Linked DNA regions of Homo sapiens: region 1 is linked to region 2. The links come from fine-mapping of genetic effects on gene expression. A gene starts in region 2. The other region holds a variant in brackets. All regions are shown on one strand. Distances are between the middles of the regions. Region 1 overlaps PPP3CC (protein phosphatase 3 catalytic subunit gamma). Region 2 holds the start of SORBS3 (sorbin and SH3 domain containing 3).

Region 1 (8,328 bases), 27 kb after region 2:
GCCTATAATCCCAGCTACTCGTGAGGCTAAGGCAGGAGAATCGCTTGAACTCGGGAGGTGAAGGTTGCAGTGAGCAGAGATCGCGCCACTGCACTCCAGCCTGGGTGACAGAACAACACTCTGTCTCAAAAAAAGGATAGAAGATATGAATTGACAAGTCACAAAAGAGAGATAAACATTGCCAACAAACACAAGAAAAAATTGTCCATTAGTCTCATAAAAATATAAACTAAAAATTTAATTAAAAACTTAGTAACACCAGACTATAACAAGTATCATAAACAGTATTGGAGACAGCACTGTGACTATGCATCCTGCAAAATGTAAAGTGGTACAGCCTTTCTAGAGGCTGTATCAGAAATTTCTATCTGTATCAGAATTGTAATTTTAAGTACTAATTGACACAGATATTCAATTTCTACAAATTCATCCTATGGAAATAATCAAGAAGTGTTATTCCTGATTTTCTAATATTGCTTTACTTCCTTTCATCTGACATATTTATTTACTGTTTTTCCTCCCTACACTAGCAAATAAGCTTATTGAGAGCAAGGACCTAAACAATACAGTACTTGGTATATATCAAGCATGTAATAAATATTGGTTAAGAGAATGTGCACATTTTTATCTAAACAAATGTTCAAAACTATATGGGTTTTGTCGGCAAAAACTTGGGAAAAACTCCAATAACCAACACCACCGGGATTAGTTACAACACTGATCAACATGGACAACTACAGATCCATTAGAAACTAGTCTACAAAGAAACTCCACAAAAATAGTGTACTACAGAGGAAAGCTATGTGCAAAGATAAAAGACAATTAACACAGTATACATTAAGATGTTAACTGTGGATATCTATAAGATGATGGGATTATGGGTGACTTTTTTTCCTTATTTATGGTTTCTCGTATTTTTCAAATTTTATTTTTCTACAATGAACTAACTTTATTTTTAATAAGACAAAGAAAATCATTCAAAATAAACTAAAACAACTAAAACCAAAACCAAACCTCTTTCTAGTTTTAGTTCAAAGGAGGAAAAGTTTACCTTCTGCTTCATCATCAGAAATCAGTTCGTCATCAGAGCATATGTTGAGCACATTTACCAGCATCTCTGTGACTAAGTAAGACAAAATAATCCAAAATTTACGCGATTAATGAGGTACTTTCTCTAAAATAATGTGGATATCTAAATAAACACACATGTTAAGTAAGCATAAGCAAAAATTATTTATCATTATGTTAGTAAGAATAGCTATAAAAAGTAGCATAAATGTAAACTTTCAGGTTTAAAAAGAATTTGGGTAGATTACTTGCTCCAGTAAAAGTCTGGAGTCTTTGAAGATCTATTGCCTAATTACTTGATTTTACCGGATTGCTGTTCAGAGCTTCTTCCCACACTGATACACACGTGAGAAAATTTTTTTCCCACTTTACAAAGTTAAGCCAACAGGCCTACGTCCAACAGGCTTAGCTAATTTGAGTAGCTGTACAAATAAAATTGTAAGGACAATAAATTCTGTTTAAATCTCTTCAGTACTGAAGAAATCTGAGGGAATGACAAGTAACTATGTTATTTTAACATCTTGATCATAGTAGGTCAGCTACTTTAAATTGATATTTACAATAAAAAAACCATAATATATTAAAATTTAAGAACCAATTACATGCCATTTACAAATCTATGTAGAGGCTGGGCACGGTGGCTCACACCTGTAATCCCAGCACTTTGGGAGGCTGAGGAGGGCGGATCACTTAAGGTCAGGAGTTTGAGACCAGCCTGGCCAATATGGTGAAACCCTGTCTCTACTAAAATGCAAAAATTAGCCGGGTGCAGTGGCACGTGCCTATAATCCCAGCTCCTCAGAAGGCTGAGGCAGGAGAATTGCTTGAACCTGGGAGGCGGAGGTTGTAGTTAGCTGAGATCGTGCCACTGCACTCCAGCCTGGGTGACAGAGCGAGACTCCATCTCAGAAAAAAAAAAAAAAAATCTATGTAGAGAACAAACAAAATTAGAAAACATTTCTGAATCATGGAGGGGCTCATGCAAATATAAGGTATGCTCAGTCACCAAACAACTGATGAGACATGTGCTTTAGTTCTCTTACCTTTTTCCCCAACAAAAGGCAAAGACCATGTGAAAACATCCATAAAGTTTGGAAGCCAGTAGGGGTGTGGAGAACAGTTAAACTGCCTGATATTCATGACATTGTTTTCATATTTCAACACAGCAGCTAAAAAGGAAAAAAGCAAGAAAATCTGGCACAGAGGAACATGGCATGGCAAGTGGTATGCTTTGTACAGCTGTGTACCTGCTACACAGAATTCGAGAACTTTCCATTTGTAAAGTCAGGACTTGACTAGGTAAAGGGCAGATGGAAAATTTTAAAGCCTTTTATTCAGTTCATTCTCTTAAGAATTATTCCAAGGAACAAAGTTACCTGAAGAGCTCATATAATAAAAGTACAAAAGAAACTGAAACTTTGGAGTCACTGCACAGTAACTATCTATATAAACCTCAAGATCCACGTGAGGAAAATTTCCCCATAATTTCCTTTTATAGGCCAAATGGTTATAATTACAACTCTCCTTTGAAGGCAAAAATTACTCATTAAATGGACACAGCCTGTTTTGCTAGTCATTAGCCAGAGTCAAAGATTGTATACACTCTCTGGGAGTTTATATATTGCAGTTATCAACTCATACTGGAAGATACAAATGGCAAACTTGGAGCAATTTACAATTAAATGTTCAAAATTAGATTAAGTCATCTCTGTATTCAATATAGCGGATTTTAAAATTGCCGATTTCTCCAATACACAGCAGTGTATTGCCAGCATGCTATGTTTAATATTAACCATTCAGATAGTCGCACACATACTTTGATGCCAAACTGATTTTCTTTATATTTTGAAAGTCTTAAAATCCAATTCCTTAGCCTTTATCACCAGCAATGTTGTTTGCACTATTCTCTTAATTATTCTGTGGTCATAAAATAAAACAGGGTGTAACAGTTCTCCAGAAATGACAGATATAGGTCACGTCCTCATTCCTGTTTCTTTGCTACAGGATAATCTAGTGTTCTTAAAATTTAAGTTATTGAATGTCTAAAATGTACACCATATATTATTAAGAAAATAAATTAAAATATAGTTTCTAGCACTTAAAAAGCCTAACACTGGCTATGATGTACATGTTCCATTATTTTCACGTGTATGTATTTTATTTAGTTTAGGTAAATATGTCATATATCATTATTCAACAACTCCCTCAATTTCTACCCAGGAAAAAGAAGTGGGAGGTGAGTCTCAACAGTGAATGACTGGAAACAAGAGCTTATAAAACTGCTTTTGGGTGTGTTCCCAGTGGACAGAAGAAAACAAGAATAAGAATCTTTAAAAATCATGATTAAAGGTCTTTCGTGTAACTAGTGGAACTAGGAAATACCTGTAGATACCAAGAAGTCTAAAGAATATGAAAGAGCACTCCTAGCACTTTGGGAGGCCGAGGTGGGCAGATTGCCTGAGCTCAGGAGATTGAGACCAGCCTGGGCAACATGGTAAAACCCCGTCTCTACTAAAATAAAAAAAATTAGCCAGGCGTGGCGACGTGCACCTGTAGTCCCAGCTACTCGGGAGGCTGAGGCGGGAGAATTGCTTGAACCCGGGAGGCAGAGGTTGTAGTGAGCCAAGACCGCACCACTGCACTCCAGCCTGGGCAACACAGTGAGACTCTGTCTCTGAAAAAAAAAAAATAATATGAAAGAGGCCAGGTGTGGTGGCACACACTTGTAATACCAGCACTTTGGGAGGCCGAGGCAGGAGGACTGCTTAAGCTCAGGAGTTTGAGACCAGTCTGGGCAACATAACGAGACCCTATCTCTATAAAAAATATTTTAAAATTAGCCAGGTGTAGCGGCATGCACCTGTGGTCCCAGCTAGTTGGGAGGCTGAGGTGGGAGGATCACTTGAGCCCAGGAAGTCGAGGCTGCAGTGAATCAAGTTCCTGCCACTGTGCTCCAACCTAAGTGACAGAGACCGAGAGAAAGAGAGAGAGAGAGAAAGA[AAGAGAGAG/G]AGAGAGAGGGAGAGAAAGAAAGAAAGAAAGAAAGAAAGAAAGAAAGAAAGAAAGAAAGAAGAAAAGGAAGCAGAAAGAAAAAGAAAGAAAAGAAAGAGAGAGAGAAAGAGAGAGAAAAGAAAAGAGAGAAAGAGAAAGAAGAGCAACAGTAGAAGAAAAGGAAGAAGAAAAAGAATAATAGAGTTCCCTTTTTCAGAAAAGAAGGCACTTGTATGGGGAGTAACTGAGTACCCCCAGGGACTGTTTCAAATGCCACATTTTCTGCCTTTTTCCTTCTAAAATGCCTAAGAAACAACCAATGAAAATAAGACTGTTTTGAGATAAAAGTTACTAATTATGTCAAAGCCGACAGAATACTCAGGTAGAATGAACTGTGGCTTTTACTTTTTTTTTTATTTTTTAGAGACAGGGTCTTGCTCTATTGCCTGGCTGGAATGCAGTGGTGTGATCACAGCTCACTGCAGCCTCGAACTACTGGACTCAAAGGATCCTACTGCCTCAGCCTCCTGAGTAGCTAGGACTATAGGCATGCTCCACCTTGCCTGGCTAACTTTTAAATTTTTCTTTGTAAAGATGGGGTCACATTTTGCTGCCCAGGCTGGTCTTGAATTCTAGGCCTCAAGTGATCCTCCCCTTGGCCTCCCAAAGTGCTGAGATTACAGGCATGAGCCACTGTGCCTGGCCAGGACTGTGATGTTAAAAGTTTGCTAAAGAAATAATCAAGAACAAAACCAGGTTAGATTGAGACAAAAAACAAGCTAGCAGTGAGTGAGCTGTATAGTGCCTGCTGACTTAGGTGGCGTGTTTCAGCTTGGCACACTGATAAATCCATTGAGCAATCAATAGATACTCTTTTTGATGAAGTTAAAAAAGAAAGTGAGAAAGAAACACCTTCATTACAAATAGGAGATCTAGGGCCACAAGAGTCCTTGAAGACGTTTAACAACACAAACAGTCCACACCATTGATAAGAGAATAAATAAGAATAAAACCTAAGTTGCTAATATACTGGAAATATCAGGAAAAAGGAAATAACAAATGAACTTAGGGAGAAGCAGAGCATTGTAGGACAGATAAGGCTCAGAGAAGAATGCTAAGTTAAATGAAAACATAAGACTAGGACAGAACTTAAGTTAAAGACATGCTTTTTAAAATAGACAAGTCACTGGAGGACACACTAAAATGACTGACCCAAATCGGATTTAAATGAGATGTGCCATTCCATGGTTTACTTTTAAATAGAGTAAATATTAATTATATTTTGGCCATCTTTGAAACTTATCTCCCCAACTGCATATACAAGGTATAACTATAAAGTAATGAGACTTAAGAAACCACCAGCTACAAACACACCAGACCTTTTTATCAGATGAGTGTGGTCCTTTGATATTATCACATCAGGTACAATAACAGTAAAATCTGTATTATTATAGTAATTTATATTTTGAACAACACTTTAATATCCATTTTCCTTATTCCAACTTATCTTCAACAACCCCATATGACAGATATTTTAAAGATGAGGCTCAGAGAAGTATCTTGTTAAATGTGACACACTTAAAAGTGAAGCAGGACTAGACTGACTCCTTGCTTTGTGTTCTTTTCAGCACAACTTGTTGCCTTACCATATAATTAATCCAGAGATGCTGCCATTACTCAAAACGTTTTTGGAACTCCTCTTTTGGAAGTGCCTCCAGAGCCACTGTATCAGCAACACGAGAAAAACCAGTCTCATTACCTTATAATCATACCTTGTTTCTGACCCCAAATGGTATCATCTAGCTTGATCACTCACCTTATTTATCAGTCTTGACTCCGAATGACTTTTGGCTGTCCAAAAATCAAATCCACCCTCAAAGGACGAAGATTTCCCATCATTGAGGATAATCAAAAGAATGTGTCGCAGACTCTGAAGGCAATGCCAAAAGAGGAGTTCCAAAAATGTTTTTGAACAAGGACAGCATTGTTGGAATAGGTGTGTAGCCTCCCAAGGTAACTACTTTGAAGGGACAATACTCATTTGGATATGTTTGTTCTGGCATGTTTATTTTCAAAGTCCTATTAATTTATAGTCATACTTTATAAACAACAAAATAGTTACAGAAATATGAAGTTTTTAGTAGGACCACTGCCTCGATAGAAAACTTATAAACTATTAATCATAAAAGTTTTAAATTAAAAAAAAGACTTTAACAGGATAAAGTCTTAGAAGTAAAATTTCTGGAACAAAAGGCATGTATATATCCATTCTTCTTTTTTCATATGGGAAACTGAAGATTAGAAAGATAATGTGACTCACTCAAAGTCACAGTATTCGTTTCTGGCAGGGTTTAAACTAAAAATGAAGGTTTTTTTTTGACTTTGTACACTAGGTCACTCTACCTAGACCATATCTCAAGAAAAACAAAAATAGTTTAATAATTCACAAAGATTAAAATACCAATGGTGACTTTGAGATACTGTTATAAACACATTAAATTCACCAAAACCAATAATTTATGCTAACTATTCTGGCATGAGCCTGAAGCAATTTATTCTTCTTATACTTTGATTCTGTAGTATCAATCTGACCTATTATGATCATTATTTATACTCACAAAGAAGCCAGTAATCCTTAGGAGATAAAGACCAAGCAGCAGCATAAATTCTAAATTTCTTGGCCTTTGTTTCAACTAAGACCCCTTTTTTTCTTATTTAAAATTTATGTTTTAAAATGACACAAACACACATACGTACATACAATTAAACCAGAGCTCACGTTTACTCATAAATTCAAACTCAAATATTGCTGGATTCCTTTACCTTTATTGTTATAGACATCTAGGTAATTGGGGGCAGAGAAAATTGTAATAAGTGATGGAAAGCCTGTGGCTTGGCTCTTCCTGTACATTCGATACCTGAAAAAGAGATGAAAGTCCATCTGTCTGCATATTAAATGCAAAGACTCTGCAGCGATATTTGGTACAATTTTAATGTAACTTACCCAGCATCTTGGGCTTCATGGGCTCTGATAATTGATAGTAAATTATTGTTCTGCAAAAATTCACAAACTGCAGGGTAACTGGAAAAGAAAATTAGAAAACATAAATCCAGAATTAAAACAATTTTTTTTAATAGGAAGATGGGGAAAAGTCAAGGTGATATTAGCTGATTTTGTTTCAAAACTACAAGTATTACACACTACTGAAATTTTATGAATAGCTTAGTACTCATCATTCTGTTTCTCTATTTCACTAATATACTTCACTACAGATCAAACATGAAAACAATAGATAATCCTACAATAGAAAGAGCTCCTCCATCTCATCTTTTAATTTTTTTGTCTTAATCCATAACAATACAACACCAAAACTTTTATCAGTGTCTTGATATTACAAAGTACAACAGTAGTGTGTGTGTGTGTGTGTGTGTGCGTGTGTGTGTAGTAGATGCTAAAAATTCAACACATACTTTTCTTCAATTGTCAAATTGTTACAGAAATAAAAGAATATACTTACAGCTTCACAGGTAATATAAACACCAAGATAATATTATGCAGGAATACATATATACATATATATGTATATATATAGGTTTGTTTTTTTTTTTGAGACGGAGTCTTGCTCTGTCGCCCAGGCTGGAGTGCAGTGGTGCAATCTCGGCTCACTGCAAGCTTATGCAGGAATATTTTAGGAGCAGATGTAAATATTTTAGCCAACCATATTCTAAAAAAAGATACAATATTCTCATATACTCCTAAAATATTCTTTTCATACTATTACCTCTCTGAATGACAAATACCTGATAGGAAGAACTGGAGTATACAAAATTAACCTGGAATTACTTAGGCATTAATTATTTAGTTTATTTTTAAAATCTTTGTTTCTCATTATGCTCATTAGAACAAATTTACTTTTAAAGTAGGTTGTAGGTGACGTAAGCAAGATAGCAAAAGAGAATGTCCCCAGCCCTGGTCCTCCTACAGAAACAATAGTTTGGAAGCCATCCATGGCCATAAGTGCCATTGTAAGAACCTTAGGATTGAGGTAGGTGGTTATGAAACCTTGGTGGAGCCCAAGACTAGGAAGGGCTGCTTGGAGAAGGCAGGCCCACTGACCTTTCAGCTACAGACCCAGAATCAGCCTGTCCCTTGTAAACCCGGCTCCAGTCCCACTTGTCTGCAGTCCTACCACCAGCCTCATCCATCCTGGGAAGGAACCATGTCTGTTGATGCCCCTAGTAACAGATCCACCAACCAGACCCAACTGCAGA
Region 2 (8,328 bases):
AGTTTCCACTTCTGTAAAACAAGGGTCATTGTGACAAGGATTCAGTGACATCTAGCGTGTGTGACTGTACCCAGCACAGTGCCTGGCACACAGTCGAGAGGCTCTCAGTGAAGGTCAGAAACCCATTCCCCAGACATGGTTGTGACTGAGTCCTCAACTTACCCATAAGTGTTAGCCTCTAAGTAGCTAGGGCAGCAGAATAAGGGCTTTGAGGCCAGATGTACAAGTGTGTGAATTGCAGCTCAGCCTCTATGGCTGAACATCTCTGCGAATGGGGTTCCTTACTGGGAAGCTGTCAGTCATCATCACCCCTACTTTGTCAGGATATCGAGGGGTTAAACGAGGTGAGCCTCGTAAAGTGTTTTTACAGTGTCCAGCACGCTCTGGGTGTTCCATAATTGTGTGGGTGTTTTTTTTGGTTTTGTTTTGTTTTTGTTTTTGTTTTGAGACAGTTTTGCTCTTGTTGCCCAGGCTGGAGTGCAGTGGCACGATCTCAGCTCACTGCAACCTCCACCTCCCAGGTTCAAGTGATTCTCCTGCCTCAACCTCCCAAGTAGCTGGGATTTCAGGCACCCGCCACCACACCCAGCAAATTTTTGTATTTTTATTAGAGATGGGGTTTCACCATGTTGGCCAGGCTGGTCTCGAACTCCTGACCTCAGGTCATCCACACACCTCAGCCTCTCAGTGTGTGTGTGTTTTAAGTGACAGGGTCTTGCTGTGTCATCCAGGCTGATAGAGACAGGGTCTTGCTATGTTGCCCAGGCTGGATAATTGTTAAATGAATAAATTCCTTTACACAGCACCTGTCTTAGGGGAATGCTTGATAAAGGATGTCACTTTAGGAGAGACATGTTCAGGGCTGGCCTGCACCCAGGAGTTCCCAGGACCTCTGGACTGGGATCTAGAACTGCCTCTCTAACCTCCTGCTGGGTAGCCTGTTGGGCCTGAATGGGACAGTCTCCACCCCTTCCCAAGCCAACAGATACCCACATCACCTCCACCCTTCCATCCCCAGTCCCTGTGGGAGGTCCTCCGGCGCCCAGGGCTCCTGCACGCTTCCTTTCCCTGGCACCAGGCTGGAGGGCAGGGGAAGGGATGCATCAGCCTGCTCTCCCCAAGCGGGTGTCTCTTGCAGAGTCAGCAGGCTCCGCAGGGAGGGGCTCATAGTGAGCCCAGAGGCCTCTGAGGAACCTCCTCATGGCCTTGAGAACCCCATCTCCAGCTGCTGCCCCTCCCGCTTGACACAGGGCAGTGCCAGATGGCAGGGCCCTGACCCTCCATCTCCAGCATGAGGCTCCTGAGCAGACCTACCCGGGTGCTGGGAAGCATCTCGTCTTGGTGTGTAGCCCCCATTGCACACAGTCCTGGGCGCGGGGTCGTGGAACTGGAAATTAAGGGTGTTGGAGCCACCATTCCGGATCACGGGCACCTGCGGGGAGGGGCCAGGAGCGGCAGCTCAGGGCCCAGCAGGGCGGGAGGGAGGGATGGCTACTAGGCACAGCCCACACCCCTCGGTGACAGTCCCAGGCCCGCCTGACGATTTTGTGGGAAACCAGCGAGGCCCCCCAGAGCTCTCTTCAGCCCTCCCTCCATCCCTTTCATCCTCCTGCCCCCACCTGACCTGCTAGCGTCCCAACCAACTCCGGGCCCGCAGGACACCCTCCTCCCTACTGACTCACTCACCCGTGTCCCCCGGGAGGAAGACCCTATGTGGGACTGGAGGTGGCCAGGGATGAAGTCGTCCAGGCTGAGCCCAGCGCGGAGGCTGCGGGGTGGGCCCTGCATGCTTGGGTCAAGGTGGGAGGACTCCGGGCAAGCCAGCTGCTCCTCTGCGTGTCCTCTGTGGGGAAGGAGGAAGGAAGGGAAAGCCCTGCTAGGCTAGGCTGCCCATGCCCTCTTGGCTCGACCCTGGGATAGGGGAGGAGGGGCCGGCTGTGGGAGGGGGTCAGGACCAGCTGGGTACTAGCTCAAGGACCCAGGAAACAGGCCACGCCAGGCACCCGCCTGCAGGCTGCCCGTGCCTGCCGGCTCCCAGGGGCACAATGGACCACTTGTTAGGCCCAGGGCAGGAGCTCCGGGTGGGAGTGGGGGAGGGGGAGCTTGGGTGAGGAGGAGGGGAGGGGCTGGCCAGGAGCCCGTGGGGCTCTCCCTGCACGGGTGCAGCTGGCTTCCCCACTCCCCCGGAGGGAAGGCGCAGGGGAAGTGGGGCAGCCGGCAGAGAGGGGGCCTGGGAACACAGGACTTTGTTTCAGTTCCCTCTGCCTCCCCCAGGCCGTGTGGGCATCTCTTGCCTGCGGGCACAAGGGATTACTCAGCCACCCGCCCACTGCCCTCCAGGAAGCAGTCAGCAGGGCCTTAAGCCCAATAGGGCCAAGGGGAGCGTCGGGGGCATTTCCAGGCAGCAAGACCCACTCTTGCGAGCTCACAGGGAGCATCGGGCCCTTCTTTGGCCTCCTTCACAGAATGAGGACTCAGAGGGCTCCGGGTGGGTGGAGACAGAAGCGGTGGGTGAGGGCAGAGCTGAACCTGCTCATGCCCATGGAGAGTTGGTGCTGAGTGCCCTGGGGTGTTCTGCATGTGGGCAAATGTGCACGCACATACACGCGCTCCCTGGCTCCACTTTCTCCCGCCCCTCCAGGCTGTTTTGTGAGTGCAGGGTCTTCCCTGGCAGCACCATGCCTGCCCACAGCCAGCTTCTTCTGCCTCATCCCAAGGCTGGGGAAGGGGAAGGGAGCCCTAGGCACCCAGGGAATGGAGGGGCAAGAGGGGAGCCCAGAGTGGGGGTGCAAGAGGACAAAAAGGGGCTCCCAGTTTGGGGTGTCCAAGGGGGCTTTTTGACCCAGAGCACGGTGCTACGGCGTCCATCCCTCCGCGTCTTGGCTGCTGGACTGGACCAGAAACAGCCAAGCTCTGCCACTGCCCAGGACTGGATGGAATCAGGTTTGCCTGTGCCTGTGGGGTCCTTGGGGGCTCTCAGGGAGGGCTGCAAATGCATCGGGAGGAGCTGTGTGTATGTGTGTGTTGGAATCTGGGTGCAGAGCTGCGAATATGACTTCTGGGGGGACCACCGGAGGGACCACATGAGCTGCATGGGGGTTGTGGGTACAGAGGGGTGTCAGCTGAACAGTGGTGGGAGGTGCAGTCATGTGAGCAGTGGAAGAGTTGGGGGCCCAGAGGGGATGAAGGTAGAATAAGGCTGGGATGACTCAGCCCCTGGACCCAGCTCCTGCCCAGGGCTAGCGAGGGTGTAGCCAAGGCTGGGGGCAGCTCCTTGTCTCTGGTTTGAGTTTGTGGGGACTCCTGACATTTGAGTTGCTGCGACACAGCTCTTCTGTGCCCATGCCTGACTGGGGGGAGTGGAGGGCTGAGGCTGGAGGAGGAGCAGCTCCCCAGCTGGGTCCAATTAGGACTCCCACCAAAGCAAAACAGGCAGACACACCCCAGTCCCCACACTCCACCTCCCCTTGCGGGGGGGAGTTGAGGCAGGGTGGGGTGGAAGGTCAGGAGACCTGGAGCTGGTCGGCTCCTCGCAGCACCCCTCCCTGCCCAGCTGACTGCTTCGGGCCAAATTGCAGCTCAGCAGCTGCCGCCTGGGCCATCAGCTGACAGCGCCTTCCTTCCCTGACCTCCCCGCCCACCTCGTGCTCGGTGAGAACTGCTCTCTTGGAGGATGGGTAGGGCAGGAGGTCCCCCACGACCCGTAGTCAGAGGTTGCTTACCCTTGGTGCCCCCATCTGCCCCTTCTCAACCCTGCCCCTTGTGTCGCCCCCCACCACAGGAACCTCCAGGGAAGGGTGGTCCGAGTCCTTCTCTTGGCAGCCAGGTCAGGAGACTTAGGGAGGACTTACAAGGAAGAGGGCAGCATCTGGGGACTGGTCCCCCATGTAGCAGAGAGCGGAGGGGTCCTCCCAGAATTCAGACCTCCCCTCCAGGCAGGCAGCCAGCCCCGGGAGCGGGGAGAGGCCCCTGGAGCGGGAGAGGGGAGGCGGCTCTGCTGGGGTGGGCACTGGCCTCCCTGCTCTGAACACTGCCCTGACCTTGGGTGCCTGGCCCTAAGAGCTTTCCCAGGTATTTCTCAGCGACAAGGCCACGTGGACAAGGACAGCTTTTCTTGAATTTCGCTTTTTCTGGTATGAGGGCTGGTGGGAGGTACTTCCCAGAGTTTGGGACGCGGACCCCGGGGAGGGGCTAGGTGCGATTCCCTGGGGTTGGGCACGGATCCCTCCCGCCGGCCTCGCCTACTCCCCGCCCCTCCTTGCCCGGACCTACCTTCCCCGGCGAGCAGGTGGCTGGGCCCGAGGCCGCCCGGGAGCGCAGGAGCATCCCTGCCCGGCTGCTGCCTGGCGCGGGCGCTCGAGGAGGAAGGGCAAGGAGAAGCGCGGGCCGTCGCGGCCCTCGTGACCGGGTCAGGACGGGCCGGGCCGGGCCGGGCGCCGGCGCAGGAAGAGGGAGGCCGAAGGGGCGCGCGCCGGAGGCCGGACCGTGAGAGTCGCGCGGCGGGGCGGGCGGAGTTTGGGTCTCGGATCTGGACTGCGGGCCGGGGCTGGGCCGGAGAGGAGGGACGTGCGAGTGCTCTCCGTCCGTCGGGGCGCGCGCGGGGACACTGGTGGCCCCCTGCCGAGGAGGCCTGGCCGGCGGGGAGGCGGCGCCGGGAGGGGCCGCCGAGGGTCCCCGGGGAGCCCTCTCTGGTTTCCCAGCTGCCATCCCGGCCCCTACCGCAGGGCTGGCGTCGGGGAGGGGTCGGGCGGCCCGACACGGGCCACTCAGAGTTTCCAGCGACATTTCCAGAGTGTGGGAAGCGAGCGGCCTCGCAGCGGAGCCAGGACAGGGGCAGGAGCGATGAACCGGGCGGAGCCAGGACAAGGGGGCAGGAGTGGTGAACTGGGCAAGCCGGGAGAGACGGACAGGCCGGGAGCGAGATGAGGGCGCCCCGCAGGCAGAGTGGCGGAGCGGACCAGGGGAAGGCCCCGCCGCCCCTCCGCGCTGGGGGAGAGGGTGTGCCTGCGGCGGCGCGCGGCCGGTCGTGTGCAAACAAACACGCGCGCGTACACTGCAAACGTGGGGACGCTCACACACGTGCAAGCACAGGGAGGAAATCAGCCCAAGGGAGCGGCCCCCCCGGGCGTGCCGCGCCCCTAAAGAGGATAAGGGTGGGGTCCCTTTGGCGGGGATGGGATTAGGAGGGTCTTGGTGTTCCCAGACACTGTGTTTGTTTTGATCTGCCTGCTTTTCCGCTGTTCTCGCTGCTCTGAGCTGGGTCCCCAGAGCCCCGGCCCTTCCGGCTCCCCATCCATTCTGGTCATCCCCTCTCCCTGTCTCTGCCCCAAGCCTCTGTATGGCACTTCAGAAAGTGGGAATGCTTAAGGAACATTGAAGGACCGTGGAAACACTCTGGAATCCTTTCTGGCCCTTGAGTTGGCTCAGGGATCCCCAAGCCCCAAACCAGCCAACCAACCAACAGTTACTGATCAACTTTAGCTACGAGCTGGGAGTGATCAATGCTAAATTATGAAAACTAACGTAATCTCCTGCATTCCTACTGGGTGTCAGACTGGTGCCAGAGGCCACGAGGAGTTTTGGAGTGTTTTCCAAGCTCACCACTCAACTCAAAGTTTGGAAAGAAAGAGAGTAGAGAAAAGACTAAGTGATTTTCAGTCCCTACCACCATTACTGCTTTAGTCTTATCTTCTCCCTCGTTCTGGTAAAGAAGCTCTCCCCGTTGCCTTGAAACATCACATGTGAAAGCTGGAGGAGATGTTTGGGTTGAGAAGCTTCAGATAGGCCTGCTGGCCTCTAGCGCCTGCGGGGCTGCCATGTGGACACACAGCTGCACCAGCAGCAGTGGGACCACTGGGGGACACGTCATAGGGAAGCAGGTCCAAGGCTTCCCAGGACAAATTTTTACATGATTCCAGGGGTTCTGAGTCTGCCAGTTGTGGGGCATCTATGTAAAGGCAACTGTTGCACTGAGCGGGGAGCTGAACAAGATGACCTTGAAGACTCCTTCCAAGAACCTCTGACTCTCCAGGAAGGCGGAGAGATGGGGATGGCAGGGGCATTGCTGTGGAGGACAGCTGAGCAGTGGGGGAACCCTGGGACACTTCTTGAGGGACGCAGCAGTGCACTGCCCCCCAACCTGAAGCTTAGAAACCTTCTTATCCACGCCAGGTAGCCTCTTCCCTCCCTCAGGGATAAAATAGGTGCCCATTTTCTTAGACACGCATTTTTCCCACCTGTCAGGGTCCTTGGGACTAAGAAGGACCACATCGCTTTCACTTTCTTCCTTCTTCTCCCAAGATGGTGAAGCTGAAGCTCTTCCGACTCCAGGAATCCTGGCCATACCCCCTCACCAGCAGCAAGCTTCTCTTATTCTCTAGGGCTCTGACCTGGACTCCAAGATAAATATTTAGTGTAGAGGGTGCAGCAGAGCTGACAAAGTTCCCCACTTCCTGTTTCTCACAAAGGGAGGTGGCAGCCATGGGTAAGGAGCTGGGGACTGGCTACCAGTTTCATCTCTATGGGAATCGGGCGTTGAGTAAACAGCTTTGCAGGAGGAGGCGGGGTAGGTCTACGGGAGACCTGAGCTTTCTTCCTGAGCCGCTTTGACTTCTGCCTGTCTACTTAGGCCTGGGCTCTGCCGGGTTTATCACCTCTCTCAGGTCAGAATCCACCATGTTCCGTGGTGCCCATCTGGCCTCACAGCCGAGAGGATGGGAGACAGTGGGCCACAGGGCAGGGAAAACATAAGGAAATTTGACTGATTCCTCCCTTTCTGCCCTTATCTAAAGAGAAGAATTCCTTCTCTTTGAAAAGTAGATTAAGGGGGGAAAAGTAGCAGGGTTTGGAGATTGAGCCAGGAACCAGGTGTCTGATTTCCCGACGCCTCCCTCTAGCGTCAGCTCCCCTTGCTGCCTCCACAGCTGGCACGGTTAGGGAGAGGCTGAGGCTGGGAAGATTGTCCTAGATAAGGCGGCTGGCCGGCTGGCTGTCAACAACAGAACAGATTCCTTTCCTTTCCAAATCCCACTGCACTCTCTCCTTTGCATGCACGACTCCCCTGTCTAAGAGGGGCCTCCCTCCCTGCAAGTCGCGGCTTCCCCACCTCTGGCACTGCCCTTTGTCAGGGGCTGCCTCTGCCTTCTCAGAGCCACCTGAGCCACAGTAAACACAGTTACATAACTGCCCTGTTTTCCCAGCTACCTGATCCCAGGCATCAGTATTCCCCGCTCAAGCCCTTGAGGCTGCACCTTTTGTTCTGTGGGTAGTCCCCAACATCACCGTCAACAGGGGTCTGTCCACAACCCCCACCCCCCTGCAGGGGAGGATTAGCCACGGGACTACCAGTAAATGTGGCTCTTCACAGGGAGGGGGAGAAGGCGGTGGAATGCGGGTCACTCTGAAAAGCAATCTCTGTCACCAAGGATGACAAATGAGGGGAAAGAGCACTGAAGTGAAGGCGGGGTGAGCGGGGTGGGCAGAGCACCCAGTTTTAGTTCTCAAGTGGGAAAAGGGAAGCCAGGGGTCCCAGAAGACATGAACCCGGACTCAGTTCTTGAGGAGCGCCTTGCTCTGGTGCTGGGAATCGGCAATTCAGATGAGTCACCCTCTGAGATCTACCCTGGGCAGCTAGGCGGCCCTAGCTCTGTGCCTCAGTACCCCCATGGAGATACAGGGCATCTGCTCTTCCTTTCTTCTCCTCCCCAGGGATGAACTTCAGGTGCTTTGAGTAGATTTTTTGGGGGGTTTTGCTCTCAGAATTCTGAGTGTTTTCTTCCTTCCTCTAAGCTGAGCAGTCAGACCAGAAGGGGTTAGCGCAGAAAGCACTGCCCGTTTCCAGCAGTTTGGACTTCTCTAGAAGGCCACAGTGACACAATGGTGAGGAATTGAAACCAAGTCACATGGACATACCAGCAGGAATCTGGACTATGTTTCATGCCCTGGGCTCCATCCCTTTCTCCTGGGTCCTCTGTTGATTCCTGCTCCTGCAAATGTTGCCAGCCAAGTTCTACTGATGGCCCTTTCCATGCCAACCACTCATGGGAACAGGAGCAGGCAGAAGAAGGGAGTGCAAATGACCCATTTTGGGGCTTCAAAGGGCCTCCTATGCTGACAATGGCATGACGTGGCTCATCTGGAATTCAAGATTTCTGGTAGAGTCACTGTAGAGTGAGGGATCTGAGTGAAAAAATACCCAGTACAGGTCAAGTATGATGGGTATTGGGGCCTGACAGCCAGGATGGGTGCATGGAACCCCATAGGAATAGCGAATTAGGCTCTCAGGCTTGCCTGGCACAGACCTTTCCATAGCACACGCATGATGTATAA

The links.
Region 1: its variant is fine-mapped to the expression of SORBS3 in whole blood (INTERVAL, PIP 0.92).

Annotation. Positions count from the first base shown.
Region 1 is chr8:22,521,301-22,529,628 of GRCh38, reverse strand. PPP3CC (protein phosphatase 3 catalytic subunit gamma) reads right to left here. Exons shown (of 14, transcript NM_005605.5): 7 at 7,061-7,138; 8 at 6,880-6,974; 9 at 2,112-2,237; 10 at 1,052-1,123. All of the region lies in intron 1 of LOC124901905 (a long non-coding RNA gene), which reads left to right. Among named protein-coding and RNA genes, the nearest start is that of SORBS3, 26 kb to the left of the region's middle. The variant AAGAGAGAG/G (reference allele first, on the strand shown) is at 4,069.
Region 2 is chr8:22,547,967-22,556,294 of GRCh38, reverse strand. It overlaps SORBS3 (sorbin and SH3 domain containing 3), which reads right to left and starts at 4,368. Exons shown (of 21, transcript NM_005775.5): 1 at 4,273-4,368; 2 at 1,687-1,843; 3 at 1,315-1,432. The coding sequence starts at 1,788. LOC124901905 (a long non-coding RNA gene) reads left to right here and starts at 2,170. Exons shown (of 2, transcript XR_007060851.1): 1 at 2,170-4,133. RefSeq lists enhancers at 2,269-2,348, 2,462-3,337, 3,481-3,530, 3,338-4,215, 4,439-5,403 and 1 more and silencers at 4,201-4,280, 4,431-4,610, 4,921-5,050.